Regions from separate parts of the Homo sapiens genome. Here all the other regions are linked to region 2. The links come from fine-mapping of genetic effects on gene expression. A gene starts in region 2. Each other region holds a variant in brackets. All regions are shown on one strand. Distances are from middle to middle.

What was found. PIP is the estimated chance that this variant, and not a neighbour inherited with it, causes the effect. A credible set is the group of variants that fine-mapping cannot tell apart.
Region 1: its variant is the best candidate, but not a certain one, in a credible set for the expression of CHAF1A in minor salivary gland (GTEx, PIP 0.79).
Region 3: its variant is the best candidate, but not a certain one, in a credible set for the expression of CHAF1A in lung (TOPMed, PIP 0.64).

What each region holds. Positions count from the first base shown.
Region 1 is chr19:4,526,560-4,536,833 of GRCh38, reverse strand. It overlaps PLIN5 (perilipin 5), which reads left to right and starts at 1,610. Exons shown (of 8, transcript NM_001013706.3): 1 at 1,610-1,669; 2 at 2,739-2,819; 3 at 5,012-5,207; 4 at 6,968-7,050; 5 at 7,581-7,761. The coding sequence starts at 2,760. It overlaps LRG1 (leucine rich alpha-2-glycoprotein 1), which reads left to right. Exons shown (of 2, transcript NM_052972.3): 2 at 1-432. RefSeq lists an enhancer at 1,904-2,459. The variant C/T (reference allele first, on the strand shown) is at 4,927.
Region 2 is chr19:4,397,203-4,407,476 of GRCh38, reverse strand. It overlaps CHAF1A (chromatin assembly factor 1 subunit A), which reads right to left and starts at 4,837. Exons shown (of 15, transcript NM_005483.3): 1 at 4,663-4,837; 2 at 1,515-1,565. The coding sequence starts at 4,714. It overlaps SH3GL1 (SH3 domain containing GRB2 like 1, endophilin A2), which reads left to right and starts at 6,930. Exons shown (of 10, transcript NM_003025.4): 1 at 6,930-7,153. The coding sequence starts at 7,109. RefSeq lists enhancers at 3,684-4,379, 4,380-5,077, 6,740-7,569 and silencers at 4,590-4,869, 6,832-7,341, 7,402-7,451.
Region 3 is chr19:4,430,265-4,440,538 of GRCh38, reverse strand. It overlaps CHAF1A (chromatin assembly factor 1 subunit A), which reads right to left. Exons shown (of 15, transcript NM_005483.3): 11 at 9,898-9,990; 12 at 8,332-8,587; 13 at 7,000-7,469. Among named protein-coding and RNA genes, the nearest start is that of MIR4746, 11 kb to the left of the region's middle. RefSeq lists enhancers at 2,859-3,359, 3,360-3,860, 9,046-9,809. The variant T/G (reference allele first, on the strand shown) is at 4,397.

The sequences.
Region 1 (10,274 bases), 130 kb before region 2:
TGAGCAGGGTCCCGGGCCCACCTGCTGATACAGCATTGGCCATGTGGGGGCTGCAATCGGATTTGGAAGACCCTGGGGCTTGGGGGCATGTCCAGTTTTCCCAGCTCCCTAAAAAATGACCATGCAGCCTGGCGCCGTGGCTCATGCCTGTAATCCAAACACTTTGGGAGGCTGAGGCAGGCAGATCACCGGAGGTCAGGAGTTCGAGACCAGACTGGCCAACATGGCAAAACCCTGTCTCTACTAAAAATACAAAAATTAGCCAGGCACAGTGGCACGTGCCTGTAATACCAGCTACTTGGGAGGGTCAGGCAGGAGAATCACTTGAACCTGGGAGGCGGAGGTTGCAGTGAGCCAAGATCACGCCACTGCACTCCAGGCTGGGCGACAGAGTGAAACTGTGTCTCAAAAATAAAAATAAAAATAAAAAGACCATGCCTACATCTGTGGTCATTCCAGGCAAGGCAATGAAAAGGCAGGGTTCTGAGGTCCAGCAGGGCTGGGTTTGAATAGGATCCCTGGCCGGGCACGGTGGCTCATGCCTGTAATCCTAGTACTTTGGGAGGCCAAGGCAGGCAAATCACGAGGTCAGGAGTCCAAGACCAGCCTGACGAATATGGTGACACCCCGTCTCTACTAAAAATACAAAAATTAGCTAGGTGTGGTGGCAGGCGCCTGTAATCCCAGCTACTCCGGAGGCCGAGGCAGGAGAATCACTTGAACCCAGGGGGCGGAGGTTGCAGTGTGTCAAGATCGCGCCACTGCACTCCAGCCTGGGCGACAGAGTCAGACTCTGTCTCAAAAAAAAAAAAAGAAAAAAAAGGAATAGGATCCCTCACTTGCTGTGGTATGCGGGGCAAGTGTTTTATGATCTCTGAGCCTCAGCTTGCTCATCTGTGAAATGGGGATCCTAGGGAAAGGGAAGGCCTGGCTTCTGGCTTAGTTAAGGGGCAGATTAAGAAATAAAAAGAGGCTGGGTGCAATGGCTCACACCTGTAATCCCAGCAATTTGGAAGGCTGAGGTGGAAGGATCACTTGGGGCTCAGGGGTTGAAGACAAGCCTGGTCAACACAGGGACATCTCGTCTCTACAAAAAGTTTAAAAAGTTAGCTGGGGGTGGTGGTGTGTGCCTGTGGTCCCAGCTACTTAGGAGACTGAGGCGGGAGGATCACCTCAGCCTGGGAGGGCAAGGCTGCAGTGAGCTATGATCACACCACTGCACTCTAGCCCTGGGCAACCGAGCAAGACCCAGTCTCAAAAATCGATAAATAATAATAATTAATAAGAAAAGTCATCAGCGAGTTGGCCAAGGTCACTCAGCAGGGCTATGGGGGCTGTGATCGCATGGACTGTCTCTATGGCAACAGCAGTGAGGATGACAGGTGGCCAAACTTGGTCCGGGAACGTATAATAGCTCAATCTTTTGAATCTAGCGCTCCCGAATTACTATGGCAACCGTAGGGCACTGGGCCAGCTCAAGGAGAGGGCGAGGGAAGCCTGGAGCCACGCCCCCTGGGCACGCCCCCGCACGGCCTCTCCCCATTGGTCAGTTCCGGAGGCCCCCACTGCGCGAGCAGCTATAAGAAGGGCGGGCGGGACCGGCGGGGGTGTGGAGACTCGAGCCTGGGGTCGGCGGAGACAGCTGGTGTCTGAAGCCGCTCGCGCCCAGGTGAGTGCCCTGAGGGCGGCGTCCGGGAGCGCCCCCCCGGGCTTAGGAGAGGAGCTCCAGATAGGGTGGTTGGGCGAAGGTCCGGCGGCGTGGGACGGGTATGACCGGCCAGAGCAGGTGGCTGGGACCCTTGGCCCGGTTGGCCCCAGCTCAGGACCCAGTTGGGCGAGGACCAGGCCTCAGAGGACGCGGGGTGGCAACCGGAGGGATCGCAGGCGGCAGGTCTGAGGCCCGAGGTCGAGCTCCCCCCCTGTAACTCTAGCTGGCTGCGTGACCTTGGGACCAGCATGGACCTGCTGCGTACCTCAGTTGCCCTGTCTGTCAAATGAGCTGTGAGTGGACTGGGACCCAGCAGCTACCACCTCCAGCCGTCTAGGGTGCTTGGGCAGTTCTGGGCCCAGGCAGGGGCCGCAGGGGTAGCAGGGACCTCCCACATCTTACAAAACAGGAAGCAGCCCAGAGAGGTGAAGGTGCTTGCCAAAAATCACACAGCTGGCCAGGTGCAGTGTCTCATGCCTGTAATCCCAGCACTTTGGGAGGCCGAGGTGGGCAGATCACTTGAGCCCAGGAGTTTGAGACCAGCCTGGGCAACATGGCGAAACCCGGTTTCTACTAAAAATACAAAAATTAGCCGAGCATGGTGGCACGTGGGTAATCCCAGCTAACTGGGAGGCTGAAGCAGGAGAATCACTTGAACCTGGGAGGCGGAAATTGCAGTGAGCTGGGATGGCGCCACTGCTCTCCAGCCTGGGCGAGAGAGATTCTGTCTTTAAAAAAATAATAAAAATAACACCGCAATTAATGGTAGCATTTGAACCCAGGTCTTTCTCACCTCAGAGACCATGCTTCGAGTCACTCCGGCAACCCTACCTTGCCAGAGGCTCATTATTGGACACCCTCTGTGTACAGAGCTCTGGACATGCATTGTCTGAGCTCCACAGAATGCCCCATTATGCAGATGAAGAAACTGAGGCCCCAAGAGGTTTGAGAGTTGCTCAAGTCACAGAGCCCAATTTGACAGGATCTGATGCCTGGGCAGGTGCTCCCCTTACTCAATCCTGCCCCGCAGGGTGACCCTGTTTGCAGCACGATGTCTGAAGAAGAGGCGGCTCAGATCCCCAGATCCAGTGTGTGGGAGCAGGACCAGCAGGTGAGGGCTGCCCCTCCCATGGAGCAGGGACAGAAGGTATTGTGTGGGACAGTCCCTTCTAGGAGCGTTTCAGGCCAGGTATCCCGCCCCACTCCTCTCCTTGCTGGGAAAACCTGAGTCATAAAATATTTTGGTCCATGGAGGGGATGGTCTATTTCCTAGTGGGGGCTTAATGAGGCCCTGGGAGGGGAGTGTCTCTCAAAGACACCCAGCTGGCTTCTGTGGCCCCTACCCAACCCTTTCCCTCTCCTTTGATCCCTGGGTCTCCACCTGTATCCTTCTGTCTCCACGTCCACCATCATGGCGCCCTCAGTAACAACAATAGTAAGAGCAGCAATCACTGTATCAGTCACAGTTCCAACCGTTTCATGTATATTGGCTCCTTGAACACCCATCACAACCCTAGTAACCCATTTCATAGATGGGGAAACAAAGGCACCGAACAGTTCAGTGGCTTGCCCAAGTTCACACAACTTGCAGGCAGCTGAACCAGAAGTGAACAGAGGCCACTGTGCTCCAGGGGCAGTGCTCTGAACCCCCAGACTCTAACATCTCCTCCCTCGAGCAGACAGATCGCAGTGGACCCTTCAACAACATGGGTTTGAACTGCACAGGTCAGGCTGGGTGCGGTGGCTCAGACGCCTGTAATCCCAGCACTTTGGGAGGCCAAGCGGGCAGATCAACTGAGGTCAGGAGTTCGAGACCAGCCTGGCTAACTTGGTGAAACCCTGTCTCTACTAAAAATACAAGAATTAGCCGGGTGTGGTGGCGGGTGCCTGTATTCCCAGCTACTCGGGAGCCTGAGGCAGGAGAACCGCTTGAACCCTGAAGGCGGGGGTTGCAGTGAGCCGAGATCACGCCACTGCACTCCAGCCTAGGTAACAAGAACGAGACTCCATCTCAAAAAAAAAAAAAAGCCAGGTGGGGTGGTGCCTGCCTGGAATCCCAGCTAATTGGGAGGCTGAGGCAGGAGAATCTCTTGAACCCAGGAGACAGAAGTATGCAGACCTTTTTCAACCAAATGCAGATAAAAAAAATATAGTATTTGGCCAGGTGCAGTGGCTCATGCCTATAATCCCAGCATATTAGGAGACTGAAGCGGGAGGATCGCTTGAGCCAGGAGTTCAAGACCAGCATGGGCAACACAGCAAGACCCAATCTCTATAAAATAAAATAAAATTAGCTGGGCACAGTGGTGTGCACCTGTAATCCCAGGTACTTGGAAACTGAGGTTGGAGGATTGCTTGAGGCTAGGAGGCTTAGGCTGCAGTGAGCCGTGCTTGAATCACTGCCCTCTAGCCTGGCCAACAGAGCAAGACCTTGTCTCTATTGAAAACAAAAAAATTGTGACCAGGTGCAATGGCTCAGGCCTGTAATCCTAGCACTTTGGGAGGCTGAGGTGGGTGGATCACCTGAGGTGGGTGGATCACCTGAGGTCGGGAGTTCGACACCAGCCTGGTCAACATAGTGAAACCCTGTTTCTACTAAAAATAAAAATAAAAACAAAATTGGCTGGGCGCGGTGGCTCACGCCTGTAATCCCTGCACTTTGGGAGGCCAAGGCAGGTGGATCACCTGAGGTCGGTAGTTTGAGACCAGCCTGACCAATGTGGAGAAACCCCATCTCTACTAAAAATACACAAACAAAACAAACAAAAAAAACGGGTATGGTGGCGCATGCCTGTAATTCCAGCTCCTCGGGAGGCTGAGGCAGGAGAATCACTTGAACCCGGGAGGCGGAGGTTGCGCTGAGCCGAGATCGTGCCACTGCACTCCAGCCTGGGCGATAGAGCGAGACTCCCTCTTATAATATAATTGCCAGGTGTGGTGGCGGGCACCTGTAATCCCAGCTACTTGGGAGGCTGAGGCAGGAGAATCGTTTGAATCCAGGAGGAGGTTGCCGTGAGCCGAGATGGTGCCACTGCACTCCAGCCTGGGTGATAAGAGTGAAACCCCATTACAAACAAAATTGTAATGCTCTGTGTACGCCATGGGAAGAGGAGCCTGTGAGTGCAGGAACCATGACATTCTCACATCCACGTTTATCTTCACTGCCTCTACGTGGCGGGGTGCTCAGTACTCCATCCTTCCACTCTCCCATCCCTCGT[C/T]CTGGCCCAGAGAGGGGAAGTAGGTTGAGGTGTGGCTAGGGCCCCACTTCCCCCAGGGTCCCCCTGATGCCGACCCTTCCCGCAGAACGTGGTGCAGCGTGTGGTGGCTCTGCCCCTGGTCAGGGCCACGTGCACCGCGGTCTGCGATGTTTACAGTGCAGCCAAGGACAGGCACCCGCTGCTGGGCTCCGCCTGCCGCCTGGCTGAGAACTGCGTGTGCGGCCTGACCACCCGTGCCCTGGACCACGCCCAGCCGCTGCTCGAGCACCTGCAGCCCCAGCGTGAGTGCCCTGGCCCGTGTCCCTGGGAGCTGTGGCTTGCCACCCCCCCACCGCCCCCTGTCCCATCCTCCTTGGTCTATCTGCATGACACTCCTGGGGGTCATCTTCAGCCTAGCCACCTGTCCCACTGCCATGCCACCTGTCCTCAATCTCTTCACTTAAGTCCTTCTTTAATCTGATCACCAGCCAGGCATGGTGGCTCATGCCTATGATCCCAGCACTTTGGGAGGCCGAGGAAGGAGGATCACTTGAGGCCAGGAGTTCAAGACCAGCCAGAGCAACGTAGCGAGACCCTGTATCTCAAAAAAAAAATTTTTTTTTTAAATCTGGCTGGGTGTGGTGGCTCATGCCTGTAATCCCAGCACTTCGTGAGGCTGAGGCGGTTGGATCACAAGGTCAGAAGTTTAAGACCAGCCTGGACAACATAGTGAAACCCTGTCTCTACTAAAAATACAAAACTTGGCCCGGTGTGGTGGCACATAACTGTAATCCTAGCTACTCAGGAGGCTCATGCAGGAGAATTGCTTGAACCCGGGAGGCAGAAGTTGCAGTCAGCCAAGACCGCACCATTGCGCTCCAGCCTGGGCAACAGAGTGAGACTCCATTTCAAAAAAAAAAAAGCAAAAACAAACAAAAAAAACTGATCCCCTGATAGGTGCGGTGGCTCATGCCTGTAATCCCAGTATTTTAGGAGTCCGAGGCAGGCAGATCACTCACTTGAGGTCAGGAGTTCGAGAACAGCCTGGCCAACATGGTGAAACCCCAACTCTACTAAAAATACAAAAAATTATCCAGGCGTGGTGGAGGGCGCCTGTAATCCCAGCTGCATGGGAGGCTGAGGCAGGAGAATCGCTTGAACCTGGGAGGCAGGGGATGCAGCAAGCCGAGATCGCACCACTGCACTCCAGCCTGGGTGACAGAGCTAGACTCTGTCTCAAAATAAATAAATAAATCTGATCCCCTGGCCCTCTGCCCTTACCTGTTTACTGGTGGGGCCCCTCCTCTCTGTCCCTATCCATCTGTCTCCCTGTGTCCCCTCCTTTGTTGGCCTGATGTGCCTTGGGTCCATTTGTCTCTCCAGGCCCCCTCCCCTCTGCACCTGCCTCTGCCTGTCCTAAGCCCCGCAGCCTCCGCTCTGTAGTTCTCACATCTCTGTGGACCCCTGAGCCGATGACAGGCGGGGGACTACAGGATCCTTGGCCTCTAGTCTGACCCAGGAAGAGGGTCACCTGAGGGTCCTAGCCCAGCACCTCCTCACCTCCCTCTCAGCCAGCTTCTGTGACCTTGAGTCTGTCCGCTGGGCCATCTGAGCTGGGCACGGCTGAAAAGTCGCCTTGGTGCTGGGAGAACAGGGTGGGTGGCAGGGCCCAGGCAGGATGGCAGAGGAGGCAGTGCCCAACCCAGCGGCCTACCCACACCCTCAGGGCCCCCAGTCTCACCTAGGGAGGCAGCCAGGTCCCCCTGTGGTCTAGGCCTTCTCCCCATCTCCCTCGTAGACTCTCTCTCCAGGCGCCACAGGTGTCTGCCCCAGCGTCTTTGGTGTAAGCGGCTTCTTGGTGTAAGGTCTCAGAAAGCCTGTCCATCTCCTGGTGTGGGTCTCGTCTCCATCATTCCGTTTTGTTTCTCCCTGTCTTATCCTGGTCTCCTTCCTTCTCTGTCTCTGCTTCTCTCTCTAGCATTCCCTCCTTCTACAACTCTCACTGCGTCCCTATCTCCCTCTGCGTCTCCCCGAGTCTCACTCCCCGCCTCTCTCCCTTCAGTGGCCACTATGAACAGCCTCGCCTGCAGGGGCCTGGACAAGCTGGAAGAGAAGCTTCCCTTTCTCCAGCAACCTTCGGAGACGGTACCCCGGACGACTAGACATGGGGACCTCCAGTGGGGGCAGGCCAGATTAGAGGCGGGAGGGAGGGAGGGATGGTGACAACCAGGCTTTTAGTTAACTCAAGAAAAAACAGCCAGGTTAAAATAACTGCAACGTGTGTGTGTGTGTGTGTGTGTGTGTGTGTGTGTGTGTGTATACATATATGTATATACGTATAGTGTATATATGTATATATACGTATAAGTATATATGTATATATACGTATAAGTATATATGTATATGTGTATATATACATGTATATATGTATATGTGTGTATATGTGTATATATGTATATGTATGTGTGTATACATATGTATTGCTAGTAAGGGCAGTTAACTCCCTCAACACCCTCTGTGAGGGAAGGGTTTTATCACCCATTTTATAGGGGAAACTGAGGCACGGAGCCAGGTAGAAGTCCAGGGATCTTTGAGTCCCAGCCCCAGGGAACTAGGGTGGCAGAAATGGAGCTGGAGTCCCACGGTGCCTGGAGTGGGGGGGCCCTTCCTTCCAGGTGGTGACCTCAGCCAAGGACGTGGTGGCCAGCAGTGTCACGGGTGTGGTGGACCTGGCCCGGAGGGGCCGGCGCTGGAGCGTGGAGCTGAAGCGCTCCGTGAGCCATGCTGTGGATGTTGTACTGGAAAAATCAGAGGAGCTGGTGGATCACTTCCTGCCCATGACGGAGGAAGAGCTCGGTGAGGACGACACCCTCAACCCTAACCCCTGAGTCCTGCCCCGTCCCCATCCCCTGTGGTACAGATCAGAGAGGTCTGAGACTCACCCAAGGTCACACAGCAGATCAGCAGGAAACATACAACTCAAAACCAGGCCTGTCCTCCCTCCCGGTCACTTCCACGGCCCCTCAACCTGCATCCCGCCAGGAGTCAGAACACCCAGACCCTAAGGGCATATAGGGCTTTTAGACTTGAGGTCCCAAACTGGTGGCCCCCAAATGCCTGTGCAGCGTGTTTTAAATATTTTCATTCTTTGCATGCATTTAACAACCAGATTTTGCATTACATGTCCCGATTCTTGGCTTGTTTTGAAAAACCAGACACACTGCCAGGCACAGTGGCTCACGCCTGTAATCTCAGCACTTTGGGAGGCCAAGGTGGGCAGATCATGAGGTCAGGAGTTCGAGCCCAGCCTGGCCAACATAGTGAAATCCCGTCTCTACTAAAAATACAAAAAATTAGCCAGGCGTGGTGGCGTGTGCCTGTATTCCCAGATACTCGGGAGGCTGAGGCAGGAGAATCACTTGAACCTGGGAGGTGGAGGTTGCAATGAGCTGAGATCGCGCTATTGCACTCCAGCCCAGGCCACAGTGCGAGACTCCGTTTCAAAAAAAAAAAAAGAAAAACTAGACACAGCCAGAATATTGTCTGCTCCTTCAGATGGTTTGCTCAGCTCCACTAGTCCCCAGTGGTTTATGTCATATCTACTTTGATGGTTTTTGGTACCTGCCTGGCCCTGGAGACCATGTGAATGTCCAACTCTGGCCTTACAGTACTGGAAGAATGTATGGGCTTACCCCCACCTCAGCAGAAAAGCAGGGAGGCGGCCGGGCACGGTGGCTCAGGCCTGTAATCCCAGCACTTTGGGGGGCCGAGGCGGGCCGATCACGAGGTCAGGAGATCGAGACCATCCTGGCTCACACGGTGAAACCCCGTCTCTACTAAAAATACAAAAAATTAGCCGGGCGTGGTGGCGGGCGCCTGTAGTCCCAGCTACTCAGGAGGCTGAGGCAGGAGAATGGCGTGAACCCGGGGGGTGGAGCTTGCAGTGAGCAGAGATCGCACCACTGCACTTGAGCCTGGGTGACAGAGCGAGACTCTATCTCAAAAAAAAAAAAAGGCAGTGAGGCATTGATCAGGCACTTCTTGTGTGCCAGGCACTCCTGAATTTTTTTTTCTTTTTTTTTGAGACAGAATCTCTCACTTTGTTGCCCAGGCTGGAGTGCAGTGTTGCGATCTCAGCTCACTACAGCCTCTGCCTCCCGTGTTCAAGCGATTCTCCGGCCTCAGCCTCCCAAGTAGCTGGGATTACAGGCACCCACCACTACACCCGGCTAATTTTTGTGTATTTAGTAGAGATGGGGTTTTGCATGTTGGCCAAACTCCTGACCTCAGGTGAGCCACCTGCCTTGACTTCCCAAAGTGCTGGGATTACAAGCGTGAGTCCACCACGCCCAACCATTGTTGTTTTTTTTTTTTTTTTTTTTTTTTTTTTGAAGTGGAGTCTCACTCTGTCGCCCAGGCTAGAGTGCAGTGATATGATCTTGGCTCACTGCAGCCTCCGCCTCCTGGGTTCAAGTGATTCTCCTGCCTCATCCTCCTAGACAAATGGAACTAGAGGTGCACACCACCACATCTGGCTGATTTAAAAATTTTTTTTTAGGCCGGGCGCGGTGGCTTACGCCTGTAATCCCAGCACTTTGGGAGGCCGAGGAGGGCAGATCACAAGGTCAGGAGATCGAGACCATCCTGTGAATGGTGAAACCCCGTCTCTACTAAAAATACAAAAAATTGGCCGGGCGTGGTGGCGGGTGCCTGTAGTCCCAGCTACTCAGGAGGCTGAGGTGGGAGAATGGCGTGAACCTGGGAGGTGAAGCTTGCAGTGAGCCGAGATTGCGCCACTGCACTCCAGCCTGGGCAACAGAGCGAGACTCCATCTCAAAAAAAAAAATTTTTTTTCTTAGAGATGGGGTCTTGTTCTGTCACCCAGGCTGGTCTCCAACTCCTGGGCTCAAGTGATCCCCCTGCCTTGGCCTCCCAAAGTGCTGGGATTACAGGCGTGAGCCGCTGTGCCTGGACTATGATATATTCTTTTTATTTTTTTCCACCATATCTTGTGTGGATTTTCTCTTTTTTTATTATTTTTCATTCATTTTTTTAATTTTAATTTTTTTTTGAGATGGAGTCTTGCTCTGTTGCCCAGGCTAGAGGGCAGTGGTGTGATCGTAGCTAACCATAGCCTTCAATTCCTGAGCTCAATTGATCCTCCTGCCTCAGCTTCTCAAGCAGCTGGGACTATAGGCACACGCCACTGTGCCCAGCCCTGGCTAATTTCTGTATTTCTTTTTTAGAGACAGGGTTTTTTGCTGTATTGCCTAAGCTAGTCTCAAAGTAATCCTCCCTGGGCTCAAGCAATCCTCCCATCTCGGCCTCCCAAAGTGCTGGGATTACAAGTGCATGCTGCTGCACCCAAC
Region 2 (10,274 bases):
GGTTTTTTTTTTTTCTCCTGGCCTCAGCACCCTAGGCTCTGTTAGGCTTTTCTCATCAATCAAACTGTTCTCCCAGAGTCTGCCAGGCTTCGGGCTGGTTAGGAGGAACACAGAAACACTTTGGAGAGTGAATTTCCCAAAGAACCTATGTTCACTTACTTCAATGCCATTGCATCTTTTATTAACTATTTCATCATGTAATAGACCAAATAAAAACCTGTTTTTTTTTGGGGGGGGTGTGGGGGGAGTTGTTTGTTTTGAGACAGAGTCTTGCTCTGTCACCAGGCTGGAGTGCAGTGGCGCACCCTTGGCTCACTGCAACCTCTTCCTTCCGGGTTCAAACAATTCTCTTGCCTCGGCCTCCTGAGTAGCTGGGACTACAGGTGCCCCCTACCATGCCCAGCTATTTTGTATTTTAGTAGAGACGGGGTTTCACCATGTTGGCCAGGCTGGTTTCAAACTCCTGAGCTCAGACAATCCGCCCACCTTAGCTTCCCAAAGTGCTAGGATTACAGGTGTGAGCCTAGCATCTGGCGTCCCCCTTTTTTTCAAGAGACAGAGTCTTCCTCTGTCATCCAGGCTGAAGAGCAGTGGTGTCATTATAATTCACCGCAGCCTTGAACTCCTGGACTCAAGCACTCCTCCCACCCCAGCCTCTCAAATAGCTGGTTTTACAGGTATGCAACACTGCACCCAGCCCAAGTTTGAAAAACCCAAAACTGTAGTTTCTAAAAATACAATCTGGGCCGGGTGCGGTGGCTCACACCTGTAATCCCAGCACTTTGAAAGGCTGAGGCAGGGGGATCACAAGGTCAGGAGATCGAGACCATCCCGGCCAACATGGTAAAACCCCATCTCTACTAAAAATAGAAAAATTAGCTGGGTGTGGTGGCACGCGCCTGTAATCCCAGCTACTTGGGAGGCTGAAGGAGGAGAATTGCTTGAACCCAGGAGGCGGAGGTTGCAGTGAGCAGAGATCGCACCACTGCACTCCAGCCTGGGCAACAGAATGAGACTCCGTCTCAAAAAAAAAAAAAAAAAAATTACAATCCAACCGCTCATCTGGCCCAAGGGTGAACACACTCCCCGTTTTATGCAGAAGGATTTGGGAGCATTTATCTTCCAGGACAACAGTGGTTCTCTGAGGGGGCAGTTCTACCTCCCAGGGGACATCAGCCACGTATAGAGATATTTTTGGTTGTTACGACTTGGAGGATGCACTTACTGGCATCCGGTGGGAAGAGGCCAGGGATGCTGCTACGCTCCCTACAACATACAGGAGAGCTCCCAGCTGCAAGTTACAAAACACCAATCGTGCATAAGTGGAGGCCTCGGGGTTTACTTGTGGGAACCCCACGAGACATTACTGTGTGAAAAGCATTTTCCCAGCTTCCTGGTCTGAAGAAGGACTGTTTCTCTCCCCTCTAGCTCCAGGCTTCCACTGAGGTCTCCAACAAGAGACAAGGAAGACTATAAACTACGAACAACTCTTTAACCCATTTCCAAATAATTACCTTGTATTAACTTCTTAACTGGAAAAGCTGGTCTATCTTTGCAATCCATGGCTGCAAATAAAAGTGTCAAAGGGTAAACTGTTAAATTCTGCAAATAATCAAGTTAGCAAATACATATGTAGAGCCAATTATGTACAAGGTGGAGGCAATTCTGACCCCTCTGTCCTCGGGGGCCATTTGACACAGTCTAGAGATGTTTTTGGTTGTCATGATGCAGGGAGGGCTCAAAGGGATGCTATTCACATCCAGTGGGTAGAGGCCAGGGATTCTGCTAAATGTCCCACAATGCAATGCACAGCACACCACAATGAAGAATTATATGGGCCAAAAAAAAAAAATTTTTTTTTTTTTTTTGGAGACAGAGTCTCACTCTGTCGCCCAGGCTGGAGTGCAATGGCACAGTCTCAGCTCACTGCAACCTCCGCCTCCTGGGTTCAAGCGATTCTCCTGCCTCACTCTCTCAAGTAGCTGGGACTACAGGCGCATGCCACCACTCTCGGCTAATTTTTGTATTTTTAGCAGAGACGGGGTTTCACCATGTTAGCCAGAATGGTCTCGAACTCCTGACCTCGTGATCCACCCGCCTCAGCCTCCCAAAGTGCTGGCCACGGCGCTTGGCCTCAAAATGTTAATAGGTTGAGAAATCCTACCCTAGACACTGTCATGTCTTGTTTTATTTTCTTTGTGGCATTTAATCTGAAACTTTCGTGTTTATTACGTCTCTCTGGAAACAAAATGCCAACTCTATGACAGCAGAAAGACTTGTTCCATGCTGCACCTATGGTACCTGGTTAGGGTCTGGAATAAATCAGAAAGCCAACTAAGAGAGTAACCGGAACTGTTTCATGAAATGAAAGTGGAATGAGTAAAAGTAGGGAGGAGAGAAAACATCAGATTACCTATTTCATTCCCATGATCCCCAAACATCTTCCTCCAACCCAAGCCCCCATACCACCACCAAATCTGTAAAATCAGAAAAGGGATCCTTTTCTTTTTAAAGAGAATTCATGAAGGTACCACAATTTAAAGCACTTTGAGCTTGCCAGGCAGGAGCTGAAGTGCTGTCAAGAGAAGATAAGACAAAATATTTTCCTGCAAAAAAAATCTCAAGAAACCATCTAATAATATCAAAGCAGATGCAGCAGTGATCATAAATAGAAGCGAGTCTTTAGATAAATACCTTAAACAGAGTAAGTTTAGGAAGCTCACACTTACCAGGAGATCTGGCTTGGCAAAACCTAGTTTAGTTATTTTGGTTAATCTACGTATGTTTTGTAAGCATTACATAAAAGTGAGTACTTTTTAAAAGCAGACTGGGGCTTCCTAAAAAACTCCATCGTCCATACATGAAACCACCCCTCACCCACCGCCCCAAGCTTAGTGAATAAGAAAAGGTACTGAGAAAATTCATGTTTCCTTTCTAGCCACTTCAAAGAAATAAAGACAGTATCATTCTCAAGTGTCCACTTACCAAAAGCCATGGATTTCTACCCCCTAACTGAAGGATATGATTTTTAGTCACTTAACTTTATTTTCGAGACAATCACAAAAATCTATTTGTGTGGCTTTGAGTCACTAGCTTTGGTGCAAGTGGAACAGAAACAACCTCATTAAAAACAGGACCCACCCTCATTAAAAAATCTTGTATATAAAACGGGACACTCCCAATCCAGAGATCCAAAGATACACACGATTAACACATATGTGTGTATAAAGTTACTAACTGCTCTTTATTCTGCGATTACATCCTTTCTAATTTTATTTGGCACTAAAATATACTTTCCTTTCATGATAGCATGGTCCTAGCGAGTAGCGATTTTTTTTTTTAAAGTTAAATATCCTGGCCAGGCATGGTGGCTCATGCCTGTAATCCCAGCATTTTGGGAGGCCAATGCAGGTGGATTACCTGAGGTCAGAAGTTCGAGACCAGCCTGCCCAACATGGTGAAACCCCGTCTCTACTAAAAAATACAAAAATTAGCCAGGCATGGTGGTGCAGGCCTGTAATCCCAGCTACTTGGGAGGCTGAGGCAGAAGAATCGCTTGAACCAGAGAGGCAGAGGTTGGGCAACAGAGCAAGACTCAGTCTCAAAATAAATAAATAAATAAAGTTAAACATCCTGACTTAAAACATCACAGCTCCACGACAGTACCAACTTTATATTAATTTTATGTCTCCGGGAAATCCCACAGGCTAGAAGGAACTACAGCCATGATTTTCAGCCAAGGCGGAATCTGCCCCATAGGGGACACAGGGCAATGGTATTTCTGGCTGTTACTAAGGCATGGTGAGAGGGGCTGCTACTGGCCTGCAAAAGGCGGAGGCCAGGGATGATGCTTAACACCCTGCAGTGCCGTGCCCAGGACGGCAACAAATATCAACACTGCTGAGGCTGAGAAACTGGACTGGCGTCCATTCTAGCCCTTCATTCGTTCACGTTATTTACTGAGCACCTACTATGTGCCAAAGCGTAATGCCAAGTGCTGCCAAAGCGTTATGTAATGCAGAGTCCAGCAAGGGAGAGGGACAGTCTGGTCTTCCTTGGTTCACCCTCCCACGTTTCAGGAGGCCTGTGGTGGGCTCCAAAGACCCCATTCCAAGGCACACGGAGGAGGAAGTCACGGTGCATATCAGGAAGGAGCAAGAACTCGGGAGTCCCACCCTCCTGGCCATCTCTACCATCTGGGCCTCTTCTTACCCGGGCTTACCCCGACCCTCAGCGGCATCGGTACTGGTCCCCGAGCCCGTGCGACCTTGGGCCTCAGTTTCCCCACCCGCTGCAAGGTCCAACATGGTCAAGGGACACAAACGCATCCAGTAACCTGCAGGGCAAGCCCTTTCGCTTCCCTGGGCCTCAGTTTCCCCTCTCGGCCCCTCCGACCCACCGCCCCAGAGAGTCCTGGAGGGACGAACTGACGCAAAAGCGCCGGAAACAAACAATATGGTCGCGGCTACAACAATAACGTCAACAAGGGTGCCCTTGGGGACGCCAGGCCCTCGCTGGGGATGAGAAGGCCCCAGGGGGTGAACGCCCGGCCCGCAGGACCAGGCTTGGCGCCCGGAGGCCCGTCCGCCTCCCATCGCCGCCTCGGCCCGTCCAGGCCGCGCGCCGCGCCCCCCCTTCCCCTCGGCGCGGGCCCGAACCGACCTGTGGCGGCTCCCCTGGCGCCGGGCGCCCCGCACTCCAGCTCCTCCAGCATCGCCCCGGCGGCAGCTCGACCTCCTCTCAGGCGGCGGAGGCGCGGGCTCCCCTCAGGCGGCCGCTGCTCTTCGCCCTCCCGCCCGCGCCGCTGCTGCCGCCGCGGCCGCCGCGCTCGTATTTGGCGGGAACCGCGGCGACCCCCGCAGTCCGCGCGCCAATTGGGCGAGCCCGGGTCACGTGACGGCCCGCCTCGGGAATTGAGGGGCGCCGGGGGCATCCTCGCGAGATCCGTGACTTCCATTCCTCCCAGGGCTCGCCCATTGACATATCCGCGAGGGACTGGGCTTCCCCTCGGAGGCCTGTCATTGGCTGGGAGGAGCTGCCCTGCGATTGGAGGAAGGAGGTGTCAAGCTCATTGCTCTGCGCTGCGACTGGCTGATCGCGTGGGATAGTCCCTAAGAGGAGGGAGGCCCAGGCTCTTACGTCACCAGAACATTTTACGCAAGGCGCAGATGACAACTTGAAAGTGGGATTTAGATGAGGAACCTGGAGTTTTGAGTTTATCCTAATGGGACATCGGCTAAATATAGCAACAGCAATTAAAATTATAAATTGCTTTCTACAAGAACAATAAAACGAAGTCTGGGGAGCGCTTCGGAAGTATTTGACATTCAGTAAATAACATGTAGAATGAGTGAACGAAATGGACGAAATGGATCGTTTCTGGTTTAATCCTCAGGAAATTGGCACATGCTGTTTTCTCTGCCTAGAACAATCTTTTCGCAGCTCTTTTCCTGGCTAATTTATACTTTTCAGATCTTAGATCGTCACCCCAGGAAGCCTTTTCTTCCCCAACCCTGACAATATCAAGTGCCTACAACACTGTTCTTTTCCTTAAAGCAATTACAGCTGTGTCTATTTATTAGTTTGTTATTTGACTAATGAATTAATTTCTGCCTTTTGTCATTAGTTCTGGCGAGGGTAGGACTCATTCCTCACTGGAACCCCAGGACCTGTTAGTAACTGATCATATTTACCAGGTCAATAAATGTTTGAGTGAATGTATAAATATTTGATTGAACTGTGTAGATCAAGCAGATTAAAAGCCTCACACAAAACAGAGAACTTCAGTGTCAGCCTGTGAGTGTAGAAACAGGTTTTCTTTCTTTCTTTCTTCCTTCCTTCCTTCCTTCCTTCCTTCCTTCCTTCCTTTCTTTCTTTCTTTTTTCTTGAGACGGAGTCCCTAGTAGCTGGGACCACAGGCGCCCGCCACCACGTCCGGCTAATTTTTTCTATTTTTTAGTAGAGACAGGGTTTCACCGTGTTAGCCAGGATGGTCTCAATCTCCTGACCTCGTGATCCGCCCACCTAGGCCTCCCAAAGTGCTGGGATTACAGGCGTGAGCCACCGCCCCTGGCCCTGAATTGCATTCTAGAAGCATCTTTCTGGCTGCCATGACAAGGAAGAATTGGAGGGGAGGACTGGTGGAAAGTATGGTCAAGGCATGAAGACAGACCTAGATGTCTAGATGTGTCACGTGGGCAACTGAATGGATGAACACAGGACAGAGAGAGAGAGGAAGAGAGGTGGCCGGGCACGGTGGCTCATACCTGTGAGACCAGTACTTTGGGAGGCTGGATTTGGTGGGGGGGTTGGGGGTTGGATCACCTGAGGTCAGGAGTTCGAGACCAGCCTGGCCAACATGGCGAAACACTGTCTCTACTAAAAATACAAAAATTAGCCTAGCATGGTGGTGCGCGCCTGTAATCTCAGCTACTTGGGAGGCTGAGGCAGGAGAATCGCTTGAACCCGGGAGGCGGAGGTTGCAGTGAGCCGAGATCACGCCACTGCACTCCAGCCTGGGAGACAAAGCAAGACTCCGTCTCAAAAAAAAAATAAATAAATAAATAAAAATGGGAGGGGGCTGAACACTTAGACGAACTGGATTTAGCTAAGATGAGTAAACAGGAATCTGAAGAATCGTAAGCAGGGGCCCCTTCTACTTCCCAACCTCCCTGGCCAGGTTTAAACTAAGCGCGTTTTCCAAGACGTTAGGGTCACCTCCACGACTCCAGGGGGCGCTGCAACTGCTACGGCCCCTCTAGGCTCGCCCCGCTCAACTCACTGACAGAGGCGGCCTCTCCCGCGGTAGACAATGTGCACGTGCGCTCTTCAGCCGGCAGAGGGCGCGCGTGCGCAGACGGGGCCGGGGGCGCGCGCGGGGGCCGGGGGCGCGCGCGGGGGCCGGCACCGGAAGCGTGCGGTTGCCATGTAATATCCTGGCCGCGCGGGCGCGCGAGCGGCTGAGGCGGCGCCGGGGCGGGCGCGGAGCTGGCAAGCGGGTGGCGGAGGCGGCGCCGACGGGGACTGCTGAGGCGCGCAGAGGGTCGGCGGCGCCCGGGAGCCTGTCGCTGGCGCGGTCCGGGCGGGAGGCTCGGCGGCGGGCGGCAGCATGTCGGTGGCGGGGCTGAAGAAGCAGTTCTACAAGGCGAGCCAGGTGAGCGCAGGCCCAGGCGGGAGCCGAGTACCGGGCCCCGGGCTGCCCGGATGAGGGAGCCAGGCCCGACCTGGCCCGGGAGGGGGCCGGGGGGACCGAGGTGGGGACGTTGGCGCGTGTCCCCTGCCAGGTGGGAAGACCAAGGGACGGACGGGGGCGACGAGGTGGCCCAGGCCCTGCCCGCCATGCGGGCTCCAGAAGCGGGGACAGAGCCCCTGGGAGGAGGGGAGAGGCACCCTGGGCTGCCCAGGGACGCGGACCTCTCCCCTCCTTCTCTCCGCTGCAAAGGCGGGGTGCGGGGAGAGAAGGGGAAGAGAGGAGTCCCGAGGCTGTCGACACAGGACTCTTGCCAGATAACCCAGAGCCAGGGAAAAGTTGCGTCTAGAGCAGTTACGTTCAAAATCCTCTGGATGGGCAAGGTACAAAGTTGAAAAGGTAGAGGAAGAAGTCAGTTTCCCCTCTCTGCTCCTCGGGCAGCCAGCCCTTCTCCCCAGAGACAAGCGACTGTCATCGACTCCGTATGTCCCTTTCCTAAGATACGTGTGTGCCTTTCCTTTAAAAACACGTACCCTGTGATAGCATATGCCACAGAATCCTGTGTGCTGTGTTTTTCATTGCTTGGAGATCACACTGGAGCGGGATTTCTCCCCCTCCGTCGGCACTGTTGACATCTGGGGCTGGATTGTTCTCCGTGGTGGGGCCGTCCTGGGCACTGCGGGGTGCTGAGCAGCGCCCCTGGCCTCCACCCACTCCGGGCCAGGAGCACCCCCAAGTCGTGACAACCAAAAATATCTTGAGACATCACCGTGTGTCCCCTTAGAATCAGTCCTCCTTCCCTCCCTTCGTTCCTTCCTTCCTTCTTTCCTTCCTTCCTCCCTCCCTCCTTGCCTCTCTCCCTCCCTCCCTTCTCTTCTTTCCTTCCTCCCTTCCTTTCCTGTCCCCCAGGACTACTGCTCTAGACCATACTCCACACTTCTTGGATTTTTTTTTTTTTTTTTTTTTTTGAGAGGGAGTCATGCTCTGTCGCCCCAGCTGGAGGGCAGTGGTGCAATCTCGGCTCACTGCAAGCTCCGCCTCCTGTGTTCAAGCAATTCTCCTGCCTCAGCCTCCCCAGTAGCTGGGACTACAGGCATGCGCCACCACGCCCGGCTACTTTTTGTAATTTTAGCAGAGACAGGGTTTCTCCATGTGCCCCAGGGTGGTCTCGAACTCCTGGCCTCAAGTAATCCGCCTGCTTCGGCTTCCCAACATGCTGGGATTATCGACGTAAGCCACCTGCCTGGCCTACTTGGCTCTTTTTAATGGGTACATTGTATTTCATTCCATGACATATACCATAATTTATTTAACCAGTTGTCAGTTGATAGATATCTCTATTGTTTACCGGAATTTTCTGTTACCATTACTACAATAAATAGCCAGTGAATATCTTTGCTCACCAGTGGGATTAGTTTTATAGGATGAATTCCCAGAAGTAGAATGCTGCATCCCAGCCTAAGTGCATTTGATATGGACAGATAAAGGGTTTTTTTTGGAAACTCCAGGGCCCACTGCTCATGAATCTGGTGAAAGCTGTGGATCCACTCTCCAGAAAACTGGGCACATTTAAAATTTTCACTTTGCAATTTCGAATGCAAGAAGCCTCAAATTTGGCCGGGCGCGGTGGCTCATGCCTGGAATCCCAGCAGTTTGGGAGGCCGAGGCGGGCGGATCACTTGAAGCCAGGAGTTTGAGAGCAGCCTGGGCAACATGGCAAAACCCCATCTCTACTAACAATACAAAAATTTTGTATTTTTGCCTGTAACCCCAGCTACTAAGGAGGGTGAGACAGGAGAATCTCTTGAATCCGGCAGGCAGAGGTTGCAGTGAGCCGAGATTGCACCACTGCACTCCAGCCTGGGTGACAGAGCGAGACTCCGTCTTGAAAAAAAAAAAAAGACAAGAAGCCTCAGATTGTTGAATCCTATTGGTCCGTGTACTGCAGGGTGAGGTTGTGTGGAATTTGTGTAGATAGAGTCCACCGAGGAATGAGCAATGATCTTAGCAAATGCTTGGGCCAAGGTGGCAAACAGGGTTCTCTGCCCACAGTTCGGAGATGCCCAGTGGGAGCAAAGAGAAACGAGTCCCCAGTAACACCCAGCAGGTACCTTTGCCCCTGGAAAGAAAAAAGTAAGGACCCTGCCAGGTGCTGTGGCTCATGCCTGTAATCCCAGCACTTTGAAGGCTGAGGCAGGGGTTCCCTTGAGTTCAGGAGTTCAAGACCAGCCTGGGCGATATAGGGAGATCCCATCTCTACAAAATATGAAAAAGTTAGCCAGGTGTGGTGATGTGCACCTGCAGTCCCAGCTACTTGGGAGGCTGAGGCAGGAGGACCACTTGAGCCCAGCAGTTCAAGGCTGCAGTGAACTATGATCGTGCCACTGCACTTCAGCCTGGGCAGCAAAGTGAGACCCTGTCTCAAAAAATAAATAAAAAAAGTAACAACCCTAGTGGTTGTTTAGGGATATAGATACTTAGGGTCTATCTCTACACCCCAGATGATGGTTAAACCCTGGAGAAAGATTTAATCCAGACGAATTTTAGAGTTGTCACTGAGAACAGTCCCACCCCCTTGCCCCAGCACTTTGAAATCAGATGGCCTGGCCCTGGGTTAGACCTTGCCCAGCAGGCGTCAGACCTTCACCTGCTTGGTTAGAGCACCATAGAGTACTGCTCCCTAGCAGGAAAGATGTCCTCAGAGGTCTTGGAGGAATTCCTGGGCCACTTTGTTCCCTGCTATAGACAGGTCTCTGGAAGCCACCACCCCCACTCCCAGCGATCAGGGCCTGTGCCCATATTGTCCTGAGCTGACACCCTCTTTAGAGGAATGAACCAGGCCTCTTGTGCCGGCCACCAGGACTTTGTCTCTCTCAAGGGAAGCAGGATGACCTGCGTTCAGATCTGTGAATGGCGCCTTGAAGCCTGGAAAGGACAGTGTGGTGTTAGCTGGGCTTAGGATTGCCTATTTCCACATCCCGAGGCCTAGTCCCAAAGCACAATGGCCACAGCCCACCCTCGGGGCTGTCGTCTTGGCCTCCTGGTCAATTCTGTCCTGAGTCGTGCTCTTAGAAGTCACCCTGGC
Region 3 (10,274 bases), 33 kb before region 2:
TTCCTGGGTTCACACCATTCTCCTGCCTCAGCCTCCTGAGAAGATGGGACTACAGGCACCCGCCATCACGCCCAGCTAATTTTTTTTTTTTTAAGTAGAGACAAGGGGGTGTCACTATGTTGCCCAGGCTGGTCTCAACCTGGGCTCAAGCCATCCTTCCACCTCGGCCTCCTAAAGTGCTGGGATGACAAGGTGTGAGCCACCGCACCTGACCCTAGTAAGATTCCTGAGCTGTTTCCATTTGCTTTCACCAAAGGAGAAAGACAGGATGCGTAGAGGCCACCATGAGCCTCCACGTCAGTGCTTACCCTCTCTGTGCATGAACACAAGCCCATCCCAGGACAGACAGCCACACTTATTTCAGTAGGGAGGATAGTCCTCAAAAAATTCCAGGAATTCTTCCTCTACAAAAACCTAGAAAAGTGACCGCACAGCAACACAACGGTCAGGCCATAGACTGGTTTCATGGGCTGTCATGTAAGAGCACAGTGCCTGGCCAGGCAGACTGGGTTCCTACCGTAGCCTCATCAATTCCTGGGTAGGGGCTCCCCTCCTGGATCCTCTCTTCAGTGGCTGGGAGCCCAGGCTGTCCCTCTCCCCAGGCAGCATGGGTTGACCCTGTGAGGACACAGGAGAAACATCTTGCTCTGTCACCCAGGCTGTGGTGCAGTGGTGCAATCACAGGTAACTGCACCCTTCAACTCCTGGTCTCAAGTGATCCTCCTGCCTCAGCCTCCCAAAGTGCTGGGATTACAGGCATGAGCCACTGAGCCTGGCCTACGGCCATTTTCAACTACCTTTTTGAAAGAATAGTTAAGCAAAGAAGAGTCTAAGAGTCCCCTGTAGACGCTGCTGAGGAGGGACATTCTGATCTGGAGGTGTCTGGGGACGTTAAACAAAAGAACATGCCAATTTCTTCAGAGCCACCTCAAGTCACTGGGCCCTCCCTCCACACAGGAGACGCGTTGACACATTAGGCTTTTCTTGGATCCAAAATTTTTCAGAGCAATCACCACTCTTCACCCTCTAGGCTGAAGACAGGATTTAACACATAACACCGAGTCCCACTGTGCTGAGCTGCCGGCAGCTTGCTTCACGGGGACAGCTGTCATCTCGCCAGCAGCACTGCAAGTGCTAAACACAGACACGGAGGAGCGCAGACTACGGAAAACAGGAGTCAGGAAAACGTTTAACGACTACATGGGATGAAGATGGTGTCACTAACATTTGTGCCTTTTTGTCTTTTTTTTTTTTTTCTGAGACGCAGACTTGCTCTGTTGCCCAGGCTGGAGTGCAGTGGCACAATCTCGGCTCAACTGCAACCTCCACCTCCTGAGTTCAAGTGATTCTCCTGCCTCGGCTTCCTGAGTAGCTGGGATTACAGGCGTGCACCACCATGCTCAGCTAATTTTTGCATTTTTAGAGATGGGGTTTCACCATGTCGGCCAGGCTGGTCTTGAACTCCTGGCCTCTCAAGTGATCCGCCTGCCTCGGTCTCCTAAAGTTTTGTGATTACAAGCGTGAGCCACTGCACCCAGCCATCTATGCTTTTTTTTTGAGACAGAATCCCGCTCTGTTGCCCAGGCTGGAGTGCAGTGGCGCGATCTCGGCTCACCGCAAGCTCCGCCTCCCAGGTTCATGCCATTCTCCTGCCTCAGCCTCCCGAGTAGCTGGGACTACAGGCAGCCGCCACCACGCCTGGCTAATTTTTTGTATTTTTAGTAGAGACGGGTTTCACCATGTTAGCCAGGATGGTCTCAATCTCCTGACCTTGTGAGCCACCCACCTCGGCCTCCCAAAGTGCTGGGATTACAGGCATGAGCCACCACACCCGGCCATCTATGCTTCTTTAGTTTTATTTTGATCACATAATGTTTTGTTGGCAAGGGCAAACACATCCTTCCTTGTATTTTAAAATTTTTAAATAAAACGGAGGCCCGAAGAGTTGAGGTGTCCTAGGGCTTCACAGATACATGGCACTTCACCCCACTAGGTCAGAATGCCTTAAGAATATCTCTTTTGAGCTCTAAGTAAAAAGATTTAAAGACTCCCTGGCTCAGGTCTGTAATCCCAGTACTTTGGGAGGCCGAGGCAGGTGGATTGCTTGAGCCCACAAGTTCAAAGACCAGCCTGGGCAACACAGCAGGACCCAATATCTACAAAACAAAACAAAACAAAACAAAAAAACCTCTTCTTGCATGAACATGGATGAAGCTGGGAACCATTATCCTCAGCAAACTAACGCAGGCACAGAAAACCAAATATCACATGCTCTCACTTATAAGAACATGTGGACACAAAGAGGGGAACAACAGACACTGGAGCCTATGTGACGGTGGGAGGGAGAAATTCAGAAAAAATACCTTAGTACCCAATAAATCATCTATACACCAAACCCCCGTGACATGAGTTTGCCAACCTGCACATGTACCCCTGAACCTAAAATAATAAAGGGCAACAGGGCAAGACCCTGTTTCTAATTTAACAACAAGAAAAGATGCCGGGCGTGGTGTCTCACGCCTGTAATCCTAGCACTTTGGGAGGCCGAGGCGGGCAGATCACAAGGTCAGGAGATCGGGACCATCCTGGCTAACACAGTGAAACCCCGTCTCTACTAAAAAAATACAAAAAATTAGCTGGGCGTGGTGGTGGGCGCCTGTAGTCCCACCTACTTGGGAGGCTGAGGCAGGAGAATGGCGTGAACCCAGGAGGTGGAGCTTGCAGTGAGCTGAGATCGCACCACTGCACTCCAGCCTGGGCGACAGAGCGAGACTCCGTCAAAATAAAATAAAATAAAATAAAAAAGATGAAAACTTTCAAATTGGGAAAAAAAGTGTAACCGAGTAAAAAATATGGATGTACACCACTTGCAGATGAATGGCTTATCCCTCCCCTTGGGTGCAGAAGCATCAGTCAGCAGCTTTATTAAATGCCAGGAGGCTGGAGAGAGGATCGCTAGAGCTCAGGAGTTGGAGACCAGCCTGGGCAACATAGACCCTGTCTCTACAGAATATTTGAAAATTAGTTGGGCATGGTGGCACGTGCCTCTATACTCCCAGCTCCTTAGGAAGCTGAGGCAGGAGGATCACTTGCGCCCAGGAGTGGAGGCTGCGGTGAGCTGTGACTGCACCATTGCACTCCGGCCTAGGTAACAGAGTGAGACCCTGTCAAAAAAAAACAGAGGATGCCAGGGCACATGTCCCATCCGGGCTCATGTGCTTCCACAGCCCCACCTTTGGGTCCCACCTGTGTGCCCCTCCCCACACAAGCTCTGAAAAAAAACACAGGACCAGACCCTGCTCCCCAGGGACGTTTATGTCCCAAACTGCAGGAGGTTCAGGGGTGGGGGTTAAGCATCAAGCTGGGCCTGGGTCTCCATTCCTTCACGTGTGACCTTCGTGCGTCCGCTGCACTGCTGAGCCCCAGGAGGCCCTCACCTGTGCCACGCAGCAGAGGCCACCAATCACGCGCATGTGGCCACCACTGCCATCCATTAGCAGGTGAGATGCTGTGTTTTGCTAACTCCAAGGCCCACCCAACCTCTCTGACCCACTCTAGTTAAACTGGGTGCACCCTTCTTTCCTTGTGGTTAGGGATGATAAACAGGCACTCACTGCCCCCGAAGCACAGTAACTCTGATGTGGTGCTGGGCACATGGGGCTCAGGGCGCTATTTTCCGGGTGGGGAAACATGGGTTCCACATGTTGACAGGGAGCAAGAGCAGTGTTTGGGAGGACCAGGGGCGGGGCACTGCACCCCAGCTGGGAGAGGCAGCTGCTGCATCAAATCAGTGGAGAGGGGTGGGGAAGGAGGCCGTCCAGGGCCTGGACTACTGTGTGGAGCATGAGGAGACCCCAAAGGAACATCTGAGGGACACAGGGGTTCCCAGGGGAGGGCTGATCAGCAAAGGCCCTGGAAAACTGCTTGCATAGTGACACAACCAGATAGTACCTTCCCGCCCCGATCATTTTCAGGCTGGGGAGCTCCGGTTCCCTCTAAGGCTGCTCAGGTGACCAGGGAAAGGCACTGCTCACACAGGGCTTGAACAAAGAATGCATCCAGCAAAGCTCTGTGTGGGGGCCTCCTGTGGCCCCAGCTCCAATGCACTGAGCTTCCCACGGCGCCAAGCCGCCTCCACAGAGCCAGGGGAACTATGCACATGACACACTGTACAGGGACAGAGGCTCTAGGGAGTGCCAGGAACAGTTTCAGTCGTAGCCCTGGACCCTTTGGGATGTTATGATGGCCCCTCCTGCTGTGACAGCTGAGGGAGATTCACAGCATATTAAGGCCCATGGCTGTGTGCTGGCAGCAGGGAGATGGCTGAGCATCATCTCAGGAGCCATTTCTCTCGCCTCCCTGCCCCTAACGACCACCTTTTCTTTTCTTTTTTTTT[T/G]GGGGGACTAGAATCTTGCTGTGTTGCCCAGGCTCGAGTACAATGGTGTGGTCTCGGCTCACTGCAACCTCCACCTCCTGGGTTCAAGCGATTCTCCTGCCTCAACCTCCCGAGTAGCTGAGATTACAGGCACCTGCCACCATGCCCAGCTAATTTTTGTATTTTTAGTAGAGACAGGGTTTCACCATGTTGGCCAGGATGGTCTCGAACTCCTGACTTCAGGTGATCTGCCCGCCTTGGCCTCCCAAAGTGATGGGATTATAGGCGTGAGCCACTGTGCCCAGCCAACGACCACCTTTAACATCAGAGAAGAGGATGCAAGCTGGGGCCGGGGGTTATCCACTGTCTTGCTCCTTGTCCCAAGTCTCTGAAAACCTGTAACTCCATCAGATCGTGGCCTTGAAGGAAAGCCCAAGGTTCACAGGGACAGATAGGTCTGCGTTAAGTGTAGATATTAGAAATCAAACTCAGGGAGCCAGGCACGGTGGCTCATACCTATAATCCCAGTACTTTGGGAGGCAAAGGCAGGGGGATTGCTTAAGCCCAGGAGTTGGGGACCAGCCTGGGCAACATGGTGAAACCCTGTTTCTACAGAAAATTAGCTGGGTGTGGTGGCATGCACCTGTAGTCCCTCTCAGCTACTGAGGAGGCTAAGGTGGGAGGATCGCCTGAGCCTGGGGAGGTCAAGGCTGCAGTGAGTGGTGATCACGCCACTGCACTACAGACTAGGCAACAGAGTAAGACCCCTGACTCAAAAAAAGGCCAGGACAGGCGTGGTGGCTCATGCCTGTAATCACAGCACTTTGGAAGGCTAAGGCGGGCGGATCACGAGGTCAGGAGATTGAGACCACGGTAAAACCCCGTCTCTACTAAAAATACAAAAAATTAGCCGGGCGTGGTGGCGGGCACCTGTAGTCCCAGCTACTCGGGAGGCTGAGCCAGAAGAATGGTGTGAACCCGGGAGGCGGAGCTTGCAGTGAGCCCAGATCACACCACTGCACTCCAGCCCGGGCAACAGCGCGAGACTGTCTCAAAAAAAAAAAAAAAAAAAAAAAGGAAAAAAAAGAAAAAAGAGAAACTCACTTCCGAACACTGTGTGGTAAGGACAAAAAGTATGCAATGAACGTTAACAAAGCCGATCTATGGCCAGGGGTGGGTGCCAGGGGCCAGTGGCTCTCTGGGCATGAGAGTTTCTTAAGACCAGACAGTGCCCCCATCACACACCCCAGGGCTCCATGCGCTTGTGCCTCCGAGGCACCCATAAGGCTGGAATCACACAGCCATTCATTCCCCTTACAGGCTCCTGTCTGTGCCTTACACCGGGCGGTGTTCTGCATATACCTGTGTCTGAGAGACCGATCAGAGTGCCTGGAGCACAGTAAGTGCTTAATAACTGTGCTTGAATGCAAAATTCAAGAACCGTTGAACAAAAATAAAAATGCTACCACATGGAATATTATTCAGTGTGAAAAAAAAAAGAGCTATCAAGCCACAAACAGACACGGAGGAACTGTCAACGCATACTGCCAAGTCAAAGGAGCCACACACGATGCGATTCCAGCTACAGGGCAATCTGGAAAAGGCTGATCCACGGAGATAGAGAGGTTGGTGATTTCCAAGGGATTGGACGGGCAGAGCACAGGGGCCTTTCAGTGGGGAGAAGCCTCTTTGTTTAAAACAATAAAGGTAGACGCACAGCATCCAACATTCATTCAAATCACAGAACCCTCAACACCAGCAACAAACCCTAGTGGTGGTGATAAATCAACGAAGGTGCGTTTTATGTATTTATTTTTAGAGACAGGGTCTTGCTCTGTCGCCCAGGTTGCAGTGCAGTGGCATGATCATAGCTCACTGCAGCCTCAATCTCCTAGGCTCCAGTAATCCTCCCGCCTTAGCCTCCTGAGTAGCTGAGACTACAGGTGCATGCCACCGCTTGGCTAATCTAAAAATTTTTTCTTAGAGATGGGGTTTTGCCATGTTGCCCAGGCTGGTCTCCAACTCCCGGGCTCAAGTGATCCTCCCGCCTCAGCCTCCCAAAGTGCTGAGACTACAGGCGTGAGCCACAGTGCCTGGCCTGAGGTGCACTGATTGTAACCAATGCACCATTCTGGGAGGTGATGTTGGGTGGCTTGGCTTGGCTTTGGGGAAGGAGGTGTATGGGAACTTTCTGTACCTTCCAATCGATTTTGCTGTGACCCTAAAACTGCTCTAAGAGTAAGGTTATTTAAAAAACACAAAAACACCAGGCGAGGTGGCTCACGCCTGTAATCCCAGCACTTTGGGAGGACAAGGCAGACGGATCATGAGGTCAGGAGTTCGAGACCAGCCTGACCAACATGGTGAAACCCCGTCTCTACTAAAAATACAAAAATTAGCCAGGCATGGTGGCGTACACCTGTAATCCCAGCTACTCAGGAGGCTAAGGCAGGAGAATCACTTGAACCCAGGAGGGAGGAGGTTGCAGTGAGCTGAGATTGCGCCACTGCACTCCAGCCTGGGTGACAGAGCAGGACTCCATCTCGAAAAAAAAACAAAACAACAAAAAACAAACAAAAAAAGAAAAGCCCTGCAGAGGCCCCCACCTGCCCACCCCACCTCACCTGGCCGTCGTGCCTGCGCTTCTTCATGAATTGGGTGATGCACATGCTGCCCGCTGACTTCCTCTTCAGCGAGATGGGAGTGCCCTGGCTGGGCCCCGTGGAGGGGACGCTGCCACTGTCCTCTTTGGGGGCCGAGGGCACCGATGTCACATAGCTCCACTGGCACGGCACGGGCAGGTGCTCCTGCTGGAAGCTCTGTAGCACCTGCGGGTGCACGTACCAGCACATCCTGAAGTCAGGCCGCTTCTCATACACTGAGTTCTCGGAAATGAGCCGCTTGAGCCGGGACTTAGAGGGGATGGCGGCATCCTCGCTGGGGGTGGGGGTGTGCAGGTAGGTGGTGGAGGGGCTCCGCGGGCTGCCGGTGTGGTTGCTGAGCAGTCCCCGGCGGCAGTGCTCCTGGAACTCCCGGATGATGACCTTGCTCCCGTTCACATTGCCGTGCAGGAGCGGCAGCAGCTGGGCCAGGACTGGCAGGAGGGAACATGGGTGGGCATGAGGCTTGGGGAGCCACCCATCACCACAGGCCAAAAAACAAAACACATACACAAGCTCATTGCCACCGAGGCTTGGGGCATGGCCAGCTTCGGGGATAGGTGGCCTCATGAGGGCGGGTGTAAGACAGGGTAGCACCTACGCACCTGCCCAGAAGTGAGCCTTGGCCGGGCACGTGTGTTGCCAGGGCTGACTTCAAATGCCTGCTGTTCCTACCCAAATGACTGCCCTGCTCTCCTTGTGTGCCATGGTCCCTCCCCAGTTTTTTGAGTTTTTTTTTTTTTTTAGACAGGGTCTTGCTCTGTCACCCAGGCTGGAGTGCAGTGGCAGGATCATGGCTCACTGTGGTCTGAAACTCCTAGGCTCAAGCAATCCTCCCACCTCAGCCTCTTGAGTAGCTGGGATCACAGGTGCGTGATACCACACCCAGGTAATTTTGCATTTTCTGCAGAGATGGGGTTTTGCCATGTTGCCCAGGCTGGTGTCGAAGCACTAGGCTCAAGCGATCCTCCCACCTTGGCCTCCCAAAGTGCTGGCATCACAGGCATGAGGCACTGTGCCCGGCCCCTCCCTGGCTTTTGAGAAAGCACAGCCCCCACTCCAGCACTCTCTGTGCCTGTGTCCTGGTTGATAAAACAAGCCAATTAAGGGACCTGCCTCGTCCTGCTGCTAGGGACATCATTGAACGTACGGACATGTACAGGAAAAGGGCTGGCCTCTGTTATTTGTGGAAAGAACATTTGCATCACGGACCCACTAGCCTGTGACTCTTGCCCTCAGCCCTGGAATTAGCTGGGCCCAGGAACAGGTGGGTGGCCTGGCCCCGCCCACACTCACTCTGCTCGTCTCTCCTCTCCCGCTTGGAGGCCTTGGGCGTCTGCTCCTCCTGGGCCGGCAGGGTCTCCAGGAAGCAGGCTGCGAACTGCTGCAGTACCTTCAGGTCATCGCCTGCGCAGTCTCTGTCAGCCGCCCACACGCAGCCGATCTTCACAGGTTGCAGGACGCGAAAGCGCTTCCCCTTAGCCAGGAACTCGTCCCACTCCTTGGCCTTCAGTTTCTGGCGGACCTTATGGTTCTCAGGGTCGGCACACTCCTTGTGGTTTAGAAAGCAGAAGTTTATTTGGGGTTCTTGCTCCCCTATGCCCGGGCACTCTTTTGAGGAACCAGTCCCCAGCCAGCTGGGGAGCAAGAGGAAAGGACAGGGGCACAAAACTTCCCACAGTGTCAGGGCCAGGGCAGAGCACACCATGCGCTGGCTGCCCCTCTTCCAGATGGAATAATTCACACCTGGTCTCCTTTGGGAGCGTCACAGATATTTCTGAACTCACCCATGAGGCCTCTTTTAACACCCCTCTGAATTTTCTGGTGAATGTGTGATCGTGGAGCCGTTTAACAGGGTTGGGTGTCTACCCACATGGCCCAGGCATCTGGCAGACACATGCAGGGCCTGAGACCACTCTCTGACTGACAGTTCAGGCCTCGGTGGTCAGATATGCACAAGGAATGCCTAGGCCTCCAGTCCAACCATGAGACAGTCCCACCAAATCCCCACTTCCCAAACGACAGGCCTTCAAAACAAAACAGGACCAAAAACAACTTGCTTGAAAGCAAGTTCCTGCCGGGCTCGGTGGCTCATGCCTGTAATCCCAGCACTCTGGGAGGCCGAGGCGGGTGGATCACTGGAGGTCAGGAGTTCAAGACCAGCCTGGCCAACATAATGAACTCCCGTCTCTACTAAAAATACAAAAATTAGCCAGGTGTGGTGGCACACGCCTGTAGTCCCAGCTACTTGGGAGGCCGAGGCAGGAGAATTGCTTGAACCCGGGAGGCAGAGGTTGCAGTGAGCCAACACCGGGCCATTGCACTCCAGCCTGGGTAACAGAATGAGAATCCGTCTCAAGAAAAAAAAAAAAAAAGACAGTTCCACAACCTTATGGAATCTGGAAAGGGGTGGCAGGCAGGTTCGCCTGCAGAGACGTGGGCAATCTTCTGGAGAGATAGGGAAGTTCTGTTTTATTTCGGGCGGTGGTTGCCCACATTCACTTGATTGTTACGTCATCAAACTCAACACTTACAATGCACATGTCTTGCTGCATGCTGACTGTATGTCAGCTCGGGTGGTTTCCAGCCTTCTAACCCACAGACCATGGCCACGCTCCCTCACCAGGGTGTCTGCTCCTATGGCTCCCCTCGCTTGCAAGCTCCTCCTACGTCTGCCACCCTCCCAGGTAATACCAAGTTCAGGCCCAGCTGTTCCCACGAGTGAGCTTGCGTGCTTGGAATGCAGTCCAAATCTCGTATGGTTGGGCTGGGACCCCCGTCACCCTCCCAGGTCAGGCCACTGAGCACCAGTCCAGAAATGAACTTTTGCTGAGCCGGTGACCTCCCCCTTCACTCCCTCACCTCTGTCACACCTTCGTCCTCAGACAGGTACCCATGGGGCACAAAGAAACCATCGTCCTCATCTTCATCCTCTCCCATGTCGTCATCATCATCCTCAAAAGGAGAAAAAAAAAAGAGTTCATCAGATAGAAAAGCAGAGTGTGTGCCTTATTAAAAACAAAGTAGGCCAGGCGCAGTGGCTCACACCTCTAATCCCAGCACTTTGGGAGGCTGAGGTGGGCGGATCATCTGAAGTCAGGAGTTTGAGACCAGCCTGGCCAACATGGTAAAACTCTGTCTCTACTAAAAATACAAATCTTGGCTGGGCATGGTGGCACGCACCTATAATCCCAGCTACTAGGGAGGCTGGGGCAGGACTATCACTTGAGCCTGGGAGG